Homo sapiens: one gene and its partner. The protein of the gene in region 1 interacts with the protein of each later gene in a pairwise test. Each region holds a gene or a part of one and is shown on either strand. Other genes may lie near its edges.

Region 1 (7,831 bases):
CTGAGAGCAGCGTTGCTGGTATCCCAGTGAGTTAGCTGTCCAACTATCAGAGTTCATGAGTTATTAATAGTTGTTAGTGTCTCTGACCTTTGCTAAAGCACCAGAATTTGCAAATTAAAAAAATATATAGCAGTAGTGCTTGTCTTAACATTTCTTACTAATGTGCATTCTCATATAATGCCTTGATTGAGAGAATGGGGAGGTGTGGGAGTTAGGGAGGCAGTCTTGCCTGTGAAAGTCCAGTGTAGGGGCGGCTGGGCAGGGAAACCTACTCCTGAGCAGGGAAACCTACTGTCCCTGTTTCCTCAGCGGGTCTGGCCTTTACTGGTGAAGTGCTCACTGCCTTTCTGGTGGGCCAGTCCGTTTATGAGCAACCCTGATCTCTGGCATGTCTTTTCTTGTATTGAACTGAAGTTTGCCTCCCTTGATTGTCTTTCTGTTCCCTGGGACCGCCTTCAGACATTTGGAGACAGCAGTCTCGCTTCCTTCCTCTCTGCTTCTCTCCTTCCCCTTCCAAATGCGTGACTGGTCTTCTGACTCCTATGGGGGAAGGGGCTTGCTGGGAGAATGATCAAACGTTTTCAGTCTTGTTGCTGCCGCTGAAAGGGAGTACCCTGGACATCAGTACTAATTTTAGTAGACAGTAGTAACTTTCTTGGCAATTTGCGATTTGTAAATGCAGTCTAATATTGAATTCGTTTTTTGTGCAATCATATTGCTGTTGGCCTGTATTAAACCTGTATTTACATTACCTATGCCTTTTTTTAAAACATAAATTGTTATGAATCTTTGACTTTTTTGACTGGTGTTGGTGGAACTGCCTTTGTGAGCCTTTAATGGAGGGATTTAGCATTTAAATTCCATTGTGTTACATCATTCTGGACCTATGCTGGCTGCCCTTTTACACATTTCTGTGAGTTTGTGCAAATTACTGGTGAACAGTTGAAAGGATGGAACCAAGTACAGACACTTGGACATGTGTGCTGGGCCGCTGGTGTCTGTCTACTTTAGGTTGGCATCAGTTCATTCACTGTCAATCACACCATGCACTCAGGCTTTGTCAAATGGCCTGCTTTTGAAATTATATATTAGAAAAGGTATGGTGTGTGTTCTAATATCTATTTTGAGTTTACAGCAATGGTCTACTTAGTCTATTAAACCATCTGGTTATGGCCAGGGTCACGCCTGTAATCCCAGCATTTTGGGAGGTCGAGGCAGGAGGATTGCCTTAAGGCCAGGAGTTCGAGACCAGCCTGGGCAACATAGGGAGACTCCCTTGTCTACAAAAAATAAAGAAGTTAGCGTGGCATGGTGGCTCATACCTATAGTCCTAGCTACTAGGGAGGCTGAGGCTGGAGGATTGCTTGAGGCTAGGAGTTAATTTGAGGTTGCAGTGAGGCATAATTGAACCATTGCCCTCCAGCTTGGGTGACAGAGCAAGACCCTGTGTCCAAAACAAAAAATATATAGCTTATTTACTTCTTTATTTATTTTGTAGAGACAGGTGTCTTGCTATGTTGCCCAGGCTTGTCTCTAACTCTTGGGCTCAAGCAATCCTTCCAGCTCAGCCTCCCGAAGTGCTGGGATTACAAGCGTGAACCACCATGCCCGGCCTAGTTTATCTTTTTTAAATTATAGAACTGGATTTGTCTCTAGTCACTTGGGATTTGAAAAACTTCCTTCATTAAAACCAGTATCATTTTATGTGGCTTAACAGATTCAAGAGCACTAAACATAATCTCTAGGAACTTTGGAAAGAACAGCAGTTGATATTCAGTATAGTTTGTTTCTGCTGTAACCTTGGTGTGTAATGTACAGTGAACCTGTGTCCCTGGATGACACATCTTTAGAAAATACTACCATTTAAAGTGACAGTGTGCGATACATAAGGCTAAAAGCATTTGCCTATAACCAGTGTTTATCAAGGATGCTAGTGTAGGCCATTTTTAGGAGTATAGATGAGACAAACATCATAAGCCAGGATAAAAGCTTTCTGAGCGTATTCAGGACTTGTGGTTGTAAAGAGCATCTCAATTCCGTCACCTCCCCAACCCCAACTGTTACACACTTGAAATATGGCTAATGTGACTAAGGAACTGAATATTGGTCAACAGAAATGATAGAACTTTTCCATCAGTGCTGAAAGTTCTATTGGACAGTGCTGTGTTAAACTGCTGGCTGCAGTTTAACTATCAACCCCATCGTAAGTTTCTCCAGCAAATTATTATATTTTAATATAGTTTCCTGATAGCTTTATTTTTACTTGGTCATCTCATTGCACCTCCTCCTTCCCATATAGGCTTAATTAATAAAAACTGGGAAGGGGGAAGCAAGTCCTGCTAGATTCTTCTTTGCTGAATTTCCCAAGCACTCAACCTGAGTGACATTTCAGTAGCGTGAGCATCTCTTGCAGTGTGCCTTTATGTCCCATTCAGAAAACACATTGGTTACGGGATGGATGTCTGAGGCCATCCTGGTGAGAACCCAGCTGCAAAATGAGGGTGGAAAACTCAAATACTCTTAAATGTTGGTGGGCTGAAATTTTCCTGACTATACTAAATACTGAACCCATTCTTTAAACTAATAATGGTTTTAGTGTACATACTTTCTGCAGAAGTGAAGAAAGCGATATACTTCCTTCAGCCAAAAGAGAATTCTGGAATTTTGATTTTTTTTCATCAACGGATGGAGTCTAACTATTTAGGTTAATGGAGTTGAGCGAAGAAAGACGGTAGTTTGCTGTAGTCTGCGGTACATTAGATGGGAATTCAGAATCTATTGGAATTTTATTTGTGTTTTGCTTTGACCTAATAGGAGTCCTTTAAGTTCTTTGTTCATAGGTAGCTCATCAATCCCTGACTAGGCAGTGTGCAGATGTTTGTCACTGACATGTAACCCCTGTGGTCTTGATTTTTTTTTTCTTAAGTGATAGCATTTTATCTTCTCCCTCCTTATCATGCCTGTCTGCAGTATACCTTTATAGTGTTGATGTTGAGGAGTTTGGGTAGTACTGAGGAATATATTTTATTATTAGTTTCTTGGCATATTCAGTTTTGTTTCCAAAGATATGATCAATCTCTAATATTTAATAAAGCTAAATCTAGGTGGCAGCAAGTTGAGGTTTAAAAGATTTAGGTTTACCTCTTGCGACTATTGCTAAAAGGAAGACTGTAAAAGATTATGAGAAATACTGGTTTCATCCTTGTTTAGGAATTTGGACTAAATAAAAATGGCTAGAGGGAGTTCCTTTAAGTGAAATGTCTTTCTTCTAGAGAAAAGGTGTAAAATAGTGTTAAATTGATTTGTCGATTTGGGCTGTGTGAAGCAGGGAGGCAGGACTAGATAAGTAAATAGGCAGTCCTGTTTTCTGTACTCTTAAATATACAGACTCTACTTCATCGCTCTCTAAATGTTCCAGATGGAGCCTTTTTTCAATAAAAGCCCCAGGACCTCAGGAATGGTATACCAGTAGTGGGCCTGTCAGTCTTGCTGGGTAGAATTTCACCATTGTGCTTCCTTTTACCACTAGTAGAGTTGGCCTGATGTCCTTCAGACATTAATTAAAGATAGCTGGAGTCCCAGCAGGGCACACAAGGTAAGGCTGGGCCACACGGAGACCCTTCCCTGTCTGCTCCCCATTCTCCTGTAGCTAAAAATAGCCCTGAAAGGGTGGTGCCAGGAATACAGAGAAAAGCTCTAAGAAGTTGGGGCTGTTTGCAAATTCATCCTTATTTTTGAAACCTCTGGGCTAGAAATTGAGGCTGTTCATTCTTTTTGTTTTCACTCCATCTTTAGTTGAACCCATTTCTCCTCTCCCCTGCATTTACCCCCAGCTGTTCTCTAAAAAGACCTCATGTCTCTAAAAAGAGAACAGGTCTGGGGCTTACCCTTTGCCCCAGTTTGTGTTTTCTTAGTGAAAATAAGGTGACCGTTGGTGCTTTCGAAATACACGACTCAGTTCCTTGGTTAAAATATAAATGTGACTGCCCAAGGACAGTCTTGGGCACGAAACTGGGTGTGGGCACCGCTCATACCACACCGTCAGGGGTTTCTCAGACTTCTTTTTTGAGCCACATAGCCTTCAGAGTCATGCCGACCACAGTGGGACCGAAGGGAGGCAGAGGACCTGCACTCCCACCCTCCTCCCAGTAACTCAGGGAGCCTATGAGGTTTCCTTGTTCAGCAATGTTGTCCTGTCTGGCCATCTTAGGACTTCTAAGCATAATGCCAGAACCCAAACAAGTGAGAAGTTCTGTGATTCACTTACAAACACTTCCCTTGAACTATTTAATATGTTCCTTCTCTTTGGGCTGAATAAAAAACTATTATTGTATTACCCCATGTATTTTTAAATCAAAGTTTAAATATCAAGTTAGATTTAATTTGCCATATATTTTTGAAGCTCTGTATCATTAACTAAAGGATTATAAAGTGGCAGAGTAATGCTGAGCTCTGTTTGACAAGATTATATCCGGAAGGCAGACGTGTATCATGTCTCATATTTATACAACACAGACTAGAATCTGGCCGCTCTGCCGGTGTCTGCAGGAGGGCTGGGTAGGCCTCTGGTCTTAAGTGAGTTATTTGACTAGCTACAGAGACAGGTCAGCCAGCCTCGGCAGTTCCTTGTGCCAGGATTCTGAGAGCCTGGTGGATGGGCCAGTCTGCCCCAGGAGTTGCACCAAGGGGTGGGACTGAGCTGGGTCTGCTGAGGAAGCTGTGCCAGTGAAGGGGCAGCATGCCAAGCCAAGAAGCCGTGGGTGCAGAGCCTCATCGCAGTGGGAGCTGGCCTGTCGGGACCAGCATGGGCTCTGGAGGGCCAGTGTGTGGGCATGGAGGAGTTTTGGACAAGCTATTTTAACCTGCGTAACGCTCACTTATCTTTGGCCAAGTGGGGGCACTTCCTCACGAGGTCAGCATGAGAATTAAATGTTATAGTTCATAGTAGCTAGTCACTAAATGTTTATTTTTGAAAAATAGATGGGTGAATTTAAAAGGAGATGACAACCAGGCATGGTGGCACATGGCTTTAATACCAGCTACTTGAGAGGCTGAGGGAGGAGAATCACTTGAGCCCAAGAGTTCAAATCCAGCCAGAGCAACACAGTGAGACCTTGTCTCTTTAAAAAAAAAAAAAAAATTAAGGGCGCTCTCCTTTGAAGGACAATTCCAGTAATCTTATCATCCCTCCTGGCAACCTATTGCCACCAGAATTGTAGGCAAAAGTACAAAAGCTCAAGGAGTCTTCAGTCTAGCAATTAAATATCTGCTTTAATCAGTTCGCCCTGTATTGCACACCGGAAGTAATGGCAACTGGGATAAATGTAGATGTTGTTTGGAGTCAATCGTTTGTTGTTGTTCACATTGAAGAGTGTATGTAAACTGTCTCCTCCTGGCTCCCCTCTAACCCAAATCACGTGTTCTGGTGCAGATCACTTAATGTTTCTGAGCTTCAGTTTCCTCATCTGTAAAAGTGAGGTTCATTATTTCCTAGGTACTATTTTGTTAGTTGACTTTTTTAAAAAAATAAGAGTAGTCTTAAGTATCCAGGAAACTTTTAGACATTGTTTCAGGCTGATTTTAATAGTGTTCTCTGTCTACTTATGTGACTGTTTTACGGGAGCATGAAAAGCCCTTATCAGTTGATGTGAAAGAACATTTATGCACGTTTAGTTCAGATCAGCAATCACGCATTGCAGGCTTACCTCACTAGGAACTTCGAATGTAAAAGTGATTAATACCTGGCCTGCTGCTGCCTGGTGAGGGTTCCCGGGTGTTCTGAAGCTGTGGTATGGTAGACAGCTGGAGCGACTTCTCTCTGACCCAAATTAATAGGACTACCAAAGAGATAAATTATGACAGTTTTTTAAAGATGGAGTCTTGCTCTGTCACCTAGGCTGCAGTGCAGTGATGCGATCTCGGCTCACTGCAACCTCTGCCTCGCGAGTTCAAATGATTCTCCTGCCTCAGCCGCCCGAGTAACTGGGATTACAGGCATGTGCCACCATGCTTGGCTAACTTTTTTATTTTTTTTAGTAGAGACGGGGTTTCACTATATTGGCCAGGCTGGTCTTGAACTCCTGACCTCAAGCAATCTACCCACCTTGGCCTTCCAAAGTGCTGGGATTACAGGTGTGAGCCACCGTGCCCAGCCTCTGATATTGATCTTATAGCTTGATTAAACTTTAATTTGAATGAGTTTTAGTTCACTTGTCATTTCTGTACCTTTTCTTATGACTTATCTGTCACTGTGATTTGACTTTCCTCTTCTGCTAAATAAATTGTTATTTAGCAGGTAAGGGGACAGTGAAGGAAGGGGAGATAAAATCATTAGATTTATTCATAGGACCCTCTAAAAGATAAACTAGATTTTATTCAACAAATACGTATGTACCCATCATCGTCCAGGCACTATTCAAGATGCTAGTGTTGCATCAGTGGCCAAAACAAAGATCCCCACCCTTGTGGAGCTTGCAGTCTAGCAGGGTGGAGACACTCAATGAAAAACAAACACAGGAGGTAAGTTTTGATGTATGTTGGAGTTTGGTATGTGCTAGGAGAAAACAGTAGAGCAGGGAAAGAGGGCATGGGAGGCAGGATGAAGTACTAGTAAGAGTGCTCAAAGTAGGTCTCATTGAGAAAGTGAGATTTAAGCAGAGACCTGAATCACTCTGGAGTCAGGAGAGTCGTCCAAGCAGGTATCTCGGGGGAGAGCTTTTCAGGCAGAGGGTTTAGCTAAAGTAAGGCCCTGGGGTGGACATGTGCCAGGCAGGTTGAGGAACAGCAAGGCCAGGTGGTTGAAGTTAAGAGGATCCTAGGAGATGAGGTCATGGAAAGTCAGATTTGCAAGGCTTTGCAGGTCACTGTTAGGACTTGGAATGAAAGCCCGAGTCAGATGGAAGCAATTACAGGATTTTGAGCCAAGGTATGACATCCAACTGGACATATTAACAGACTTAGTCCAGAGCAATGAGAATAGAATGGCGTGTGGCAGTCAAAGGTGGATGGAAGCAGGGAGCTAGTAGGAAATACTCCAGTAATCCAGGTGAGAGATGCTGGTGGCCTGGACCAGAGTGGAGACAACAGAGGTGGTGGTCGGGGAGCCGGGGGGGGGGGTCCCCCTCCAGCTATATTTTGGAGGTAGAATCAACAGGTTTTCCTGAGAGATGGGATTGTGAAGGATGTGACATGCAAGAGAAAGGGGAGTCATCAAGGGTGACTGTAATTTTGGCCTGTTTGGCCTGGCCTACAATAAGAATTGTCAGAACAGGGGTGGGGAGCAGCAATCAGGAATTGAGTTTTCTCCTTTTAGGTAGATCAGGCTCATGCATTCTGCTCCATGTCTCCCCACCCCAACACAAGCACTTTCTAGCTTCAGGTCTAGTCCCCTTCCTTGGAGTATCCCCCTTGGATTGTAGTCCTTTTGTGAATAATTGTCTGTGCGGTGCTCAGTTATTAGTGTGTGGGTTATGTTTTTATGTTCCTGTGTTGTATAGCTGTTAACTACTGTTTTATACATGCATAGCAAGTACTTAATGAATGCTTGCTGAATTAATGAAGTAGGCACTCAGTAGCTACTTGGTTGATCTTGAAATAGATTTATAAGATGTTTTTGTTTTTCCATTTATATGATGATGGATAACAGTCTAAAGTGTACAGGAAATAAAGATAGAATCTAGATGTATTTTATGGATGAAGTCATTAACATGTGAGTGATTTAAAAGTCTTAGAGTTTTGTGTTTATGAAATGACTTTACATAATTCATTGGGGAGGGGAGGGGAAGTTTGAAAATGCTTAAAGTGCCAGAGAATTAATATTGTATACCTCATG
Region 2 (7,000 bases), on another chromosome or scaffold:
AGGCAATCTCTGCGCAGAAGGAAGGTAGGGAACCGTCTCAGGACCCTGGAAATGTCCGGGATTTTGTAGACTCGTTTAGGGGGAAAAAACTAATCCAGCTGATATAAAAATCCCCAGCTAGTGCTCGCCCCAGAAACCATCAACAGGTCTGGTTAAAAACTGTTAGAGCCCGGCTTGGTGGCGCGCACCTGTGGTCCCAGCTACTCGGGAGGTTGAGGCGGGAGGATCGCTTGAGCCCAGGTGTTCGAGGCTGCGGTGAGCTACGATGGCGCCACTGCACTCCAGCCTGGGTGGCATAGCGAGACTTCGCTCTATAAAACACGTTGTAAGGAGCGTATTTTGAGGTCCTGTGGCTCCAAAGCGGGCATCCTATGGGGCCCGCCCAACCTCTCCACCGCCAGTAGGGCACGCGCTGGTCCCTTTAAATGTTCCCTTCGGGAGCCGAGGGACCGGTCCTTTTAGAGCGCGTCCGTCCAGAAACGCGGCTGCAGAAAGAGGGTTCCGGGGCCTCCGAGTCTACTGGTTGGCCTGGCAACGCCGCGTGCTCTTCCCAAGGGGAGGACGCGGGAGAAGCCGGGGCCTGAGTGCTCCAAGGCCCCGTGGGCTTCTTGGGTTTGTTGCCTCCGGCCGCTCATTAACTCAGGATGGCGTGGAAGACCTCGCCCGCCTCCCCTTCTGGGCCGCGGCTCCGCTTAGGTGAAGGCCTGTTTGGGCGTCCCCACCCTGGAGAGGGGCCGGGGTCTGGATTTTCAGAACTGCCACTCTTCTAGTGGTAAATGGATAACGAGCATTTGTAGGGTCTTTTATGATGTTTATCAGTAAATCAATTTGATGACGTAAATACTTCCACAAGCGCTTGTTAGGCACCTCACCGGGTTTGAATCACACACCTGCCTTTCTTAGTGGGGATTATTCCTCCCATTTGCCTTCAGGGTTAATTTTCTAAAGGGATTGGGACTGAAACCTAGCTCTTTTGGGGCCATTTGGCACTTTTCTCACTTAAGGACTAAAGAACTCTGACATTTGGAGTATTACAACCTGAAAGAGTTACCTATGAAAAAACAACACCTTATCCAAAATAGGAAGAGGATCACAATTACTAACTACAAAATTTGGGATTATAGTAGTGCTGGCTATTATCTCATTTAATCCTGAGGATGGCCCAGTTTGCTATCCCTATTTGTAGGATACAGTGAAGGGTGGAGTCTGACCCTGAGCCTAGCACAACTCTGAGATAAAATTCCACCCTGCCTTCCGGGTCCTGTTAGTGCCTTTTTTCCAGTGGAGAGGGACGGCTTGTTCTTTGGCCACAGCTTGACTGGCTTTTCTTTATACAAGCAAAGCCCAGCGTTACGTTTGCTTAACTAACGGCGTTCCTCTTTCCCCAGCGCTGGCGTCAATGCTCCCTTCCTCGGGCCATTGGAGACTCCGTTGCTTTTTAATGGCGGCAGCGGCTGCTGGGTGAGCAGCTGGAGGCCGGACAGTGTTCGTCCCATCCGGAGAGGATCGCTTTCTCCTGGCGTCACCAGCGCTGGGTTGGTGGGGGTAGCTTTTCCCTCTTTGCTCCTCCATTCTTGAAGAAAGAAGAAGATGCCACTGCCATTTGGGTTGAAACTGAAACGCACCCGGCGCTACACGGTGTCCAGCAAGAGTTGCCTGGTTGCCCGGATCCAACTGCTTAATAACGAGTTTGTGGAGTTCACCCTGTCCGTGGAGAGCACTGGCCAGGAAAGCCTCGAGGCCGTGGCCCAGAGGCTGGAGCTGCGGGAGGTAAGCCACCTAAAGACACTGCAGGCCAGGCGCGGGTGGCTCAAGCCTGTAATCCCAGCACTTTGAGAGGCCGAGGCTGGTGGATCACCTGAGGTCAGGAGTTCGAGCCTAGCCTGGCCAACATGGTGAAACCCTGTCTCTACTAAAAATACAAGGCCGGGCGCAGTGGCTCACACCTGTAATCCCAGCACTTTGGGAGGCCGAGGCGGGCGAATCACAAGGTCAGGAGTTCGAGACCAGCCTGGCCAATATGGTGAAACCCCATGTCTACTAAAAATACAAAAATTAGCCGGACGTGGTGGTGGGCGCCTGTAGGGTGTGGTGGCGGGCACCTGTCATCCTACCTACTCGGGAGGCTGAGACAGGAGAATCGCTTGAATGTGGGAGGCAGAGGCTGCAGTGAGCCGAGATCGCTCCACTGCACTCCAGCCTGGGCTACAGAGCGAGACACCTGCTCAAAAAAAAAAAAAAATTGGCTGGGCGTGGTGGTGGGTGCCTGTAATCGCAGCTACTGGGGAGGCTGAGGCAGGAGAATCACTTGTACCCAGGAGGTGGAGGTTGCAGTGAGCTGAGATCACAGCACTGCACTCCAGCCTGGGCAACAAACTCTGTCTCAAAAAAAATTAAAAATAAATAAAAAAAACACGACAGGCTTCTCTGGCCCGCATGCTGGCTGTGTGTTCTAGCCCACGGGCCACTCACTGTGTGTCCCTGGCTGGGATGTCTGAGTTGAGCCTGTAGTCCCCTCCTCATGAAGCAGGAATAGATTAGATTAAGAAGTCTCCCCTTGGGGTGCCCTATAAGAACTAATGGTTCTTATTTTGAATATGTTTATATTCCCCCTCTAAGGTAATCCAGAATCAAATGTGAATACACTTTGGGTTGTTCAAATTTCCATTTTCTAATATACCCCCAAAGGTCATCCTGATCTCTAGTACAGTTTACTGACTTCATTCTTTCTTTTTTGTTCATTTTAATTTTTTTAGAGTCAAGGTAGGTCTAGCTATGTTGCCCAGGTTGGTCTCAAATTCCTAGGCTCAAGCGATCCTCCCGCGATAGGCATGTGCCACCATGTCCGGCTCTTGACTTCGTTCTTTCAACATTCATTGAGTAAAATTCATTGACTATATTCTTACAGGCCAGATCGAGGTTCTAGAAACATACTGCCTGAACTCAGTTTGAGTTCTAGTTTCCTCACCATCTGCTTCTGTTACCTTGGGCAAGTTATGTGATATCTCTGAGCCCCAGTTCTCCATCTGAACCATGGGGATGACTGTGACACCTAATTCTCAGAGTAGCATAAGGTTGTAAGCTCTGCTAACTAGTCTATTAGAGTACCGATTGGGAGGTTTGCCCAGGAAACCCCTAATCTAGTTGGTAGGAAGTTATGGAGTACTCATGTATCCATATAATGTCTTAAATTTAAAATGTTATGCAAGGCCTGTGAAGAAAGGTCTCTAATTAAACCTAGGACCCTCCCTACCTTTGGCTACCTGGTTCTTGGGTAAGGGAAAGTTAGAGAAACTGGTTATTCCACCTAAAAAGTCAGGAATAGATGAACTTTGCTCCTGGTGACCATCCAATCACTTATATGATCACTCAGTACTGAAGATGCGTAAGTGCCAAGCACATACATACTTGGAAGCTCACCCTAGTGTTGTTGCCAGTAAGAAAACAGGCATGATGCATGCTGTGATAAGGGAAGTAGAGGGTGTGCTATAGGCCAGAGGGAGGTGCAGCAAAGGGAAGGCTGCTCAGGGAATTTGATTCTGAGCTGTGACCTGAGGATGGGGCAAGGGAGTCCTATCAAGGGCTGGAGGAGTTCCAACAAAGAGAACTGCACAGGACCAAAGACGCAGAGGAAGCTGGTCTGCCTGAAGCCTGAAGTGCGTGGAGGAAAGGCCGACTGTAAGGGCCACACAATGAGGATTTTTTGTTAAAGGATTTAGATTTATCCTGAGGGTAGTGGGGAAGTTAATGAAGGGTGTAAACAGGTGTGGTACGATTGTTTCTGTGAAGAGTGAGCCCTTTGGAGAATGATTTGAGGGGAGTGGTTCAGGTACAGATGGTAGCCACCTGGAGTTGGATAGGGTTGGAGAGAGGTGGTTGGAATCTGGATCAGGACCTACCGAGTAATAGAGAAGGGTTAGCATGGGTCCTGGTTGATATTCAGGTTTTCAGTAGATGGTGGGGCTATAACAGAGAGGAAATGTGAAAGGAAGTGCAGATCTATTAGGGGCAAGGAGGAGCGTGTGGTGAGTTCAGTTTTAGAAATACTGAGTTTGAGGTGCCAGTTGGAGGTTTTGAATAGACAGATGGATCTGCTGATCTGGAGTTCAGGCATGAGATCCAGGTTAGAGGGAAGATATTGGGAAGTATCAGCCTAAGTGAGTTCATTAAAGCCAGAAGATGGTATGAGGCTCTCCAGGGGAGAAAAAGAGGACATCGCAGACCCCTCATGGTAGATTAGAGGAGGGGAAAGTGTTGGAAGGAAACTGAGATGAAACTGCCGAAGAAGAAGAAAGAAAACCAGAACAGCAGGCCTCAGTAACCAGTCCCTGCTTACTTGCATTTATTCTTTTTTAGGGATGAGGTCTCACTCCATCACCCAGGCTGGAGTACAGTGGCACCGTCATAGCTCAATGCATCCTCAAACACCTAGGCTCAAGTGATCCTTTTGCCTTAGCCTGCCAAGAGCTGGGACTACAGGTACACTCCACCACACCCAGCTAATTTTTTTTTTAACTTGTGTTTTTGAGATGGAGTCTTGCTATGTCGCCCAGGCTGGTCTGGGAGTTGTTTCCTCTAGTTATCTTCCTGCCTCAACTTTGTGAGTAGGTGGGATTACAGGCGTGTGCCACCTTGCCTGGCTTAGTGGCTTATATTCTATTTATTTATTTATTTATTTACTTTGGTTGCTTCGACTTTTTTTTTTTTTTTCCTATTATGGTTTCTTCTTCCTGTAATTTTCTTCCTCGTGCACCAGGTCTGTCTATAACGCCTAGAGAGTCAGCTTCTTGAGGAACTGTGGTTTATTTATTTTTATACCAGGTGTGGAATGTGTTCAGTAAATACAGGGAGAACTGAACCCACAGGCATTGCCTTCCTTCTGTTAATAAGTCCAGAGAAATTGCCATCCCTTGTTAGAAGTTATCAGTCTCAGGGAACAAGTAACTTTATATAGCTGTGGGTATATTTTGAGCCTGATTTTTAACAGAAGAGGAAACAGGCATGGTCCCTAGAAAATGTTTTGCCTGTGGAGAGTCTGTCCCACAATTTCCAACATAAATGTAACAGTCATGGGTAGAAAGTTTGTATAGCAAACTTTTTCTTTGAAAGCCCCAGAAGCTCTGCTCTGTAGCATATAAACAGATGGCTCAGGCATCAGGCCTAATCTTAACAAATGACTGTTCAGAAATAATCTGAGTGGGGTCACACCTGTTTCTAGTTTGTACATATAGTCTCTGTGTGATTCATACCAAGAAATATCAGTATGTTGGTTTCTTGCACTGTTCTCCCACCAAGCAAATCTGGAATTATCGCATATAGATTTGGGTGGAAAACTTTGCTACTGTCCAAATATAAATGGAGGGAAAAGTCCCTCTTGCTTAATTGAATACCATTTCACTTCTATAATGACAATTTTTTTTTTTTTTTTTTTTGAGATGGAGTTTCACTCTTTTGCCCAGGCTGGAGTACAATGGCGCGATCTCGGTTCACTGCAACCTCTGCCTCCCGGGTCCAAGCGATTCTCCTGCCTTAGCCTCCCCAGTAGCTGGGATTACAGGTGCCTACCACCATGCCCGGCTAATTTTTGTATTTTTGTATTTTTTTTTTTTTTAAGTAGAGATGGGGTTTTATCATGTTGGCCAGGCTGGTCTTGAACTCCTGACCTCAGGTGATCTGTCCACCTTGGCCTCCCAAAGTGCTGGGATTACAGGAGTGAGCCAACGTGCCCGGGCCTATAATGACAGTTACAAGGGCCGCACAATAGTATAACACTATACCCAGGGGTTTCAGCTATATCAGTAGTGTTTCTTACACTGGGTATATGGGTATTTTTTTTGTTTGTATTTTTAGCTGTCATATTTTTACAAGTGTCTAAGATATTTTGTATTAAATTAAAAGCAACGTGGTTAATATACATGTATCCAATGTAGTTAACTTAGGTTGCTAACTTTCTTTTAAATTCACCATATTTGAACTACAGAAAGTAACTTCTTTTTTTTTTTTTTTTTTTTTATTTGAGACAGAGTCTCGCTCTATCGCCCAGGCTGGAGTGCAGTGGCGCGATCTCGGCTCACTGCAACCTCCGTCTCCCAGGTTCATGCCATTCTCCTGTCTCAGTCTCCCAGGTTCATGCCATTCTTCTGTCTCAGCCTCCCAAGTAACTGGGACTATAGGCGCATGCCACCACGCCCGGCTAATTTTGTATTTTTAGTAGAGATGGGGTTTCACCGTGTTAGCCAGGATGGTCTCGATCTCCTGACCTCATGATCCGTCTGCCTCGGTCTCCCAAAGTGCTGGGATTACAGGCGTGAGCCAAAGTAACTTTTAAAAATGGGAAAATGAATTATTCCCTTAGGAAAATATTGCTGTTCGTTATAGCAGTAGTTTCTCAAAGCTGTTGAAATTCCCTGCCTATCATTCTTCTGAGTTTCAAAACATTTTTTCAAGAGAGGCTGTGAGTCCTTGTGGAATTTAAGGGGAGCTAGAAAATTTTCTCCAATTTTAAAAGCATATGCTGTAGAGGCTTGAAGGAGGTGGTGACACAAGTGGCCACCTGGGCATGGGCACTGCCTGGGGCATCACCTTGACGGAATCAGCACAATCCAGAGTGCAAGAGTCAGGCTCAAAAATCTCATGTCATGGGAAGACCTGATTTAATCTAGCTCGCTAAAAATGATGTGTAAAACCAGGACCCAAGTTTAGTAATTTATAAGCAGTAAGGAACTGCCAAGGGTCCCAGGTATGTGTGCCCTCTGCCTAGGCCAAGATTTTCCTATAGTTAGGGCACATGGGAACCAGAACAAACCAGAAGTTTCTTGGTGAACATGGAATCAGAAGAATGTTACCTTGAAAAAGTAGATATTTTCATAAGTCGGCCAGGCGCGGTGGCTCACGCGTGTAATCCCAGCACTTTGGGAGGCCGAGGTGGGCAGATCACCTGAGGTCAGGAGTTCAAGACCAGCCTGGCCTGGCCAACATGGTGAAACCCCATCTCTACTAA

What was found. Proteins that work in one complex are often made in the same cells at the same time.
Region 2: the proteins of SNX18 (region 1) and PTPN21 interact in binary tests that used the Homo sapiens proteins (3 or more experiments, as listed by UniProt).

The regions. Positions count from the first base shown.
Region 1 is NC_000005.10:54,520,254-54,528,084, forward strand, and holds part of SNX18 (sorting nexin-18), read left to right. Parts: exon of another isoform or gene 1-793; intron 794-7,831.
Region 2 is NC_000014.9:88,545,008-88,552,007, reverse strand, and holds part of PTPN21 (tyrosine-protein phosphatase non-receptor type 21), read left to right. Parts: intron 1-455; exon of another isoform or gene 456-772; intron 773-1,388; 5' UTR 1,389-1,590; coding exon 1,591-1,770; intron 1,771-7,000.